2 separate regions of the Homo sapiens genome follow, and region 2 is linked to region 1. A link means that fine-mapping ties the variant in region 1 to the expression of a gene that starts in the linked region. Tissue or cell type: whole blood. Region 1 holds a variant in brackets; the other region holds the start of a gene. All regions are shown on one strand. Distances are between the middles of the regions.

What was found. PIP is the estimated chance that this variant, and not a neighbour inherited with it, causes the effect.
Region 2: it holds the start of GXYLT1, and the variant in region 1 is fine-mapped to the expression of GXYLT1 in whole blood (INTERVAL, PIP above 0.99). The same link has a PIP of 0.9 or more in lung.

Annotation. Positions count from the first base shown.
Region 1 is chr12:42,055,829-42,058,585 of GRCh38, reverse strand. No RefSeq gene overlaps it. Among named protein-coding and RNA genes, the nearest start is that of GXYLT1, 88 kb to the left of the region's middle. The variant T/C (reference allele first, on the strand shown) is at 1,691.
Region 2 is chr12:42,143,706-42,146,462 of GRCh38, reverse strand. GXYLT1 (glucoside xylosyltransferase 1) reads left to right here and starts at 1,589. Exons shown (of 8, transcript NM_173601.2): 1 at 1,589-2,037. The coding sequence starts at 1,817. RefSeq lists an enhancer at 1,162-1,231 and silencers at 1,392-1,891, 1,972-2,201.

The DNA of each region.
Region 1 (2,757 bases):
TGAGTAGCTGGGACTACAGGTGTGTGCCATCATGCCCAGCTAATTAAAAAATTTTTTTTGTAGAGATGAAGTCACACTATGTTGCCCAAGCTGGTGACATGGGTAATTTATTAGAGTGTTGTAATGTGCTTCTCACAACCCTCATGCTCCAGGAGGCCAATTTAGAGCATACTTTTCCTTTTGATAGCTTAGCACCTTATCCACAGCACTGTAATTACATGCTACACACAACAGATTCATTTGCTACAATGTTCATTTTTAAAGAATTGTCAAATCTGCTGATCATTTGCCAACTCTTTTGTGCCAAAATGTTATTTATGAAGTTAATTTATAATAATTATTAATTATGAATACTTTATAGCATATCAATTATTCTAAACACTTTCCACTTTGCCTGCAGATAAATCAGTCTGCCTTGTGAAAGCAAACAAACAAAAAATCCTTGACAACCACTTCCTTGCCAAGATTGACCAAACACATACAGAATTTGCCTATGTCCACAAATACCTTAATCTTTATTTGCAATGGTTTTAGAAAAACATTAAGCATAAAACATTTGTATTATAAATTCTTTAGTTGACTCTTTTTTGTCCTATGTGTCAGTCCCTCTCTTTGTAAAACTAAGATTTATATATCTACCTTGCCAGGGTGGGAAAAGACTCAGTAAAGAAATGTGAAAGTGAATCAAAAGTTTGAAAAGGTATAATAATTCTGTCTTTCCTTTTTTAACAAATATCCACAGTATTTCAGAGATTCCTTAGTCATCTCAGGGAATAAATTGAGTACTTCAGGCTGCCTACATTGAAGAGAAGGTTCTCATATGAATGCCAGGTAGTTTGTGTCCCATTCATTCCTACCAAGGTTCTTGTTTAAGAATGGGTTGTTACTCAATTGTTGTAATGTAAATAGAAATTTTTCTGTCTTTAATCATTTCAGCTTAGTTAACCCACAGTTATTCTTTTAAAAACTAGGAAATACAAATGAGTAAAAGGTAAAAAAATTCACATAAGCTCAGAGATAACCAGGGTTTACATTTGGTATGTATCTTTTCAGACATTTTTCTACACACATACATATATTGTGAAGGGAACCAGAATATGCCACTTTGGCATGAGGATTATTTTGAGCTGAAGGCAATTAAGAAATAGCTTATGCAGAAAAAACTCTCTGCCCTCCTCCATCTGACTAAAAGCAGGACATAAATTTCTACTTGTAAAGGTGTTTACCTCTTTTGTACCAGAAAGAAGAGAACAACTCTTTTTTTTAAATTACACTTTAAGTTTTAGGGTACATGTGCAGAACGTGCAGGTTAGTTATATATGTATACATGTGTCATGTTGGTGTGCAGCACCCATCAGCTCGTAGGGATATGGATGAAGCTGGAAACCATCATTCTCAGCAAACTATCGCAAGGACAAAAAACCAAGCACCACATGTTCTCACTCATAGGTGGGAATTGAACAATGAGAACACGTGGACACAGGAAGGGGAACATCACTCTTTTTGTTTTTTAAGAGATGGGGTCTCGCTCTGTCTTCTGAGTAGCTGGGACTACAGGTGTGCACCACCACACCTGGCTAATTTATTTTTGTAGAGACAGGGTCTCGCTATGTTGCCCAGGCAGGTCTTGAACTTTTGGTCTCAAATGATCCTTCTGCCTTGGCCTCCCAAAGTGCTGAGATTACAGGTG[T/C]GTGAGCCACAGCTCCCAGGAGAACAACTCTTAATCACCAGGACTCTTAATTACTTGAGAGGACTCTAGAACTCTTATCAGCCCTGAGATGCACCAAGACAAATCTGCAGAACAAATCTTACTAAACAACCTTTATTTACCATTAATTTCCTCATATATTTACGCCTCACATTTACCACCCCTAGGACATTCCCTTGCCTCCGTTTCCTTTGACCTGTCATAGCTCCAGAATTTAGCATTCTTTGTTGAAATGGTATATAAGTGCTCAAGCCTATTTGCTTCTTTGAATCTTCATTTCTTTTTTACAAAGGCCTCCATGTACATGTAAACATATTAATATCAAATAACATTTGTATGCCTTTTCTCCTATTAATCTGTCTTTTATCAGTTTTATTGGCAGGGCCCCAGCTGCTGAACTTAGAAAGGTAGAGGGAAATTGTTTTTCCTCCTCTGCCATTTTATCAGTCGGTGTTCAGTCAGGGAAGCAAAGCCACCAAAAATGTCACAGAATAAGGAAGTGATTATATGAATTAGACCTTGCCCAATTGTGAGGGAAGCTGAGGAAGTGAAAGTCTGAAGGGAGGAGGATCAAGAAAGAGCTACTAACCAGTTCTCCCTAAGCTCTGGTGTGGGTGAAGAATTTGGAGCTCTCAGGGAAATATGAGCGAGAGCTTGTGGCGAGGTGTCTGGGTTGCTGGGTTTGGTGGTGTGAGCCTGTAGTCCCACCTACTCAGGAGCTGAGGTGGGAGGATAGCTTGATCCCAGGAGGTGGAGGCTGCAGTGAGCCAAGATTGTGCCACAGCGCTCCAGCCTGGCTGACCCTGTCTCAAAAAAAAAGTAATAAAATAAATAAAATGCCAACCAAGAATCAATCTAAAAAATTTTTTTAAAAGAGAAAGAGCTACACTGGCCAATACAAATGCTGAGGAGGAGATAGAGAATGTTGAGTAGGATTAGGATTAGGAATATTGAGGAGCCTGATGTTTAGGAAAAGAATGGAGATGAGTGTGGCAAAGCTAAGAGCTAGAGAGGGCAGGGTGACAGAACAGGTGATGTGACTTCCCAGA
Region 2 (2,757 bases), 88 kb before region 1:
CTTGATAGCATGCTAATGTTCATTTTTTATCAGGTAAAGCAAGAAGGGGAGGAAGTTGAACCTTAAATTTGTTTAGTGACTTTATCATGGTCACAGAACCACTACTTTTTTGGTATAGGGAGCCAAGGATCCAAATGGAGACTGCTACTATTTTGCGCAGCATTTCCCCACCTTGTATCTCATGGCCAAACTTTTCAACGCCCCAGATGCAATTTCAGCAGTTAAACGCATGATTTTTCCCCATGAATGTGTGTTCGTGTGTGTGTGTATTTTTAAGTATCCCTTCCCTCACTTTTTGGCACTGGTGCTGCTTTCTGCCTCCAATCTCTCCTCTCTCTGTTTCAGCCTCCACACTACAGCCAGAATCTGCTCTCTAAAATGCAATTGTGATCATGTTACTTCCCTATTTAAAAACCCTTCAATGGTTCACTAATGTCTTGCAGATTAAATTCAAACTCCTTGGTGTGCTAAACAAAGCACTCAAATATCTGGCCCCTTCTACGCGCTTATCGCTCATCATACCCTCTCTTGCATTCACTTAGCTGGTGGTATCAAACTTCTCAACAGTTCCCTACACAAGAGCCTGTTTATTGATCCTTCAGCCTGGAATTACTTCCCTTACCCGACTCAAGACTCTAGCGCCACCTTTGCTATGAAGTCTCTCTTGACCATACTCACAGATAGAACTGATTGTTCCTTTGTGTGTATGCCCACACCCTTACAGGCCTGGATCTTAAGTCTGTTATCACTGCGTTGCGCTTATTTACAAGTATCCGCTGTCCCACCCACGCTCCACTTAGGCCTCTTTATACCCCTAGGTACTCACACAGAGCTTGGCACAAGTGATGCTTTATAAATGGTCAATGAATGAACGTAGTGGAAACACAGAAGAAGAGGGAGAAGAACTGGGGAAGAAAGAAGCTCTGTGGAGAGAATACTAATTGTTTTGCACATGAAAATAATGAGTTGTGAGGGAGGTCAAAAAGGTCAAAGGGAAGAGCCCTGCCTTACAGGAACTCACTGTCTGCTGGGAGGCAAGAGGTAAGGTCCGCATACCAAACACACGAAGCAATGAGCTTATCGGGGTGAAAATGGCTCGTGCACATTATAGTATCACAGAAACTTAGAGGCTGGGGGAGGATGGAGAGGAAACTGGCCTAGTCAAGTGTCTTCTAAGTGTTAGGCGGTTTTCGAGCGTTAAACAGTTTAATCTTTACAACCACCCCATGATGAGGATAGTAGCTCCATTTTAGGGACGAAGAAACATGCTCAGAGAATTTAGGTTGCCCAATGTCACAAACTACCATGTGGAAGGACCATAATTAGAATTTAGGTCAACTGCCTCCAGAGCCCTGAGGCTTTCGCTCCCCCTCTCTCGGCGGTCGAGACCCACAGGGCTCCCATTCACCTGCGCGTCGGCCTGCGCTAGCTATAGCCCTCAGGCGCGCCGCGTTCCGCGCACTCACACCACCCTCTGCGCGCCAGCCCTGCGTCCCTCCCACGCGAACTGCGCCGGCGCGTCCAGCCCTCCCGCCCGGGGGAGGGGCGGGGTTGCGTCGCTGCCGCTGACCCTTGAGCGCGCGGCGGCAGAGGCGGTGTCCAGGCTTCCGGGCGGGTAGTCCTTCGGCTCCGGAGCCGCGACTGCGCTCGCCTAGGTGGTGGGCGGGGAGGGAAGGAAGGGAGCGGGCGCAAGGCGGCGGCGGCGGCTGCGGGTGAGGAACTTGTTGCGCCCGCGGCTGCGCGGTGCCCCTCCCTCCGCTCCAGTTCGTCGGGGCGGGCGCGGCGGCGGCGGCGAAGGAGGAGCGCGGCCGGGGCGATGCGGCGCTACCTGCGCGTCGTGGTGCTGTGTGTGGCCTGCGGCTTCTGCTCGCTCCTTTACGCTTTCAGCCAGCTCGCCGTGTCCCTGGAAGAAGGAACGGGCGGCGGTGGCGGGAAGCCGCAGGCCGCGGTGGCTTCCTGGCTCGCGGGCGGCGGACGCGGCGCCGTGAGAGGCGCCGGCGTCGCGGGCCCCGCAGCGCATCCCGGCGTGTCGGACAGGTACGGGCAGTTCCCGGTGTGGGGGACGCGGCGGGCGCGGGGCGCTGGGCGCGGGCTCGGCCTAGCCCGGGCTGCTCGCCGGTGGGTGCCGCGTCTCCCGCGTCTTTCCTCCTGTCTCTGACCCCTCACTCATTTCCCTCCTTCCCCTCCGGCCGGGGCTAAACCTGCGCTGCTCCCGCCTGAGAGTGTCCTACACTTTCTGTGTTTATCTTTTGACCCAGTCATGCGCCCTTTAAAGCAGTTAGAAATTAATTTTCAACTTTTTAAAAAGAGGGTTCTTTGAAAATAAGAGGTGTCCACAAAAGCCTTACTGCTGCCTGGCTAGTGAGAATTTCCTCTTGTTTCAGTGGAGTTCAAGTTGAGATATTTAAACATGAGGCTGGCGCCCTAGTTCAGTGTTTAAGGATTGTGTGTGTGTGTGTGAGTGTATATGTGTGTGTATTTTGTCCCTCATGCTGATTTTCCTGTGTTAACGCTTACACTTCTAAGTATTAGCCATGGTTAGTTAAATTTGGAAATGGCATTTGTGCGGGTTGTGAAATTTTCTTTTGGAAACACTCAGTTTATTAAGAAACTTAGAGCAAATTAAGAAAAATGAGCGATACTTGGCGTGCTCAAGTCTGTTGTTGGATGGGATGGAGTTACCTTTCTTGACAAATTGGTATTTAAAAAGCGACGTAATGACTTAGGACGTAATCACTGCCAGAGTGGGAATCAACA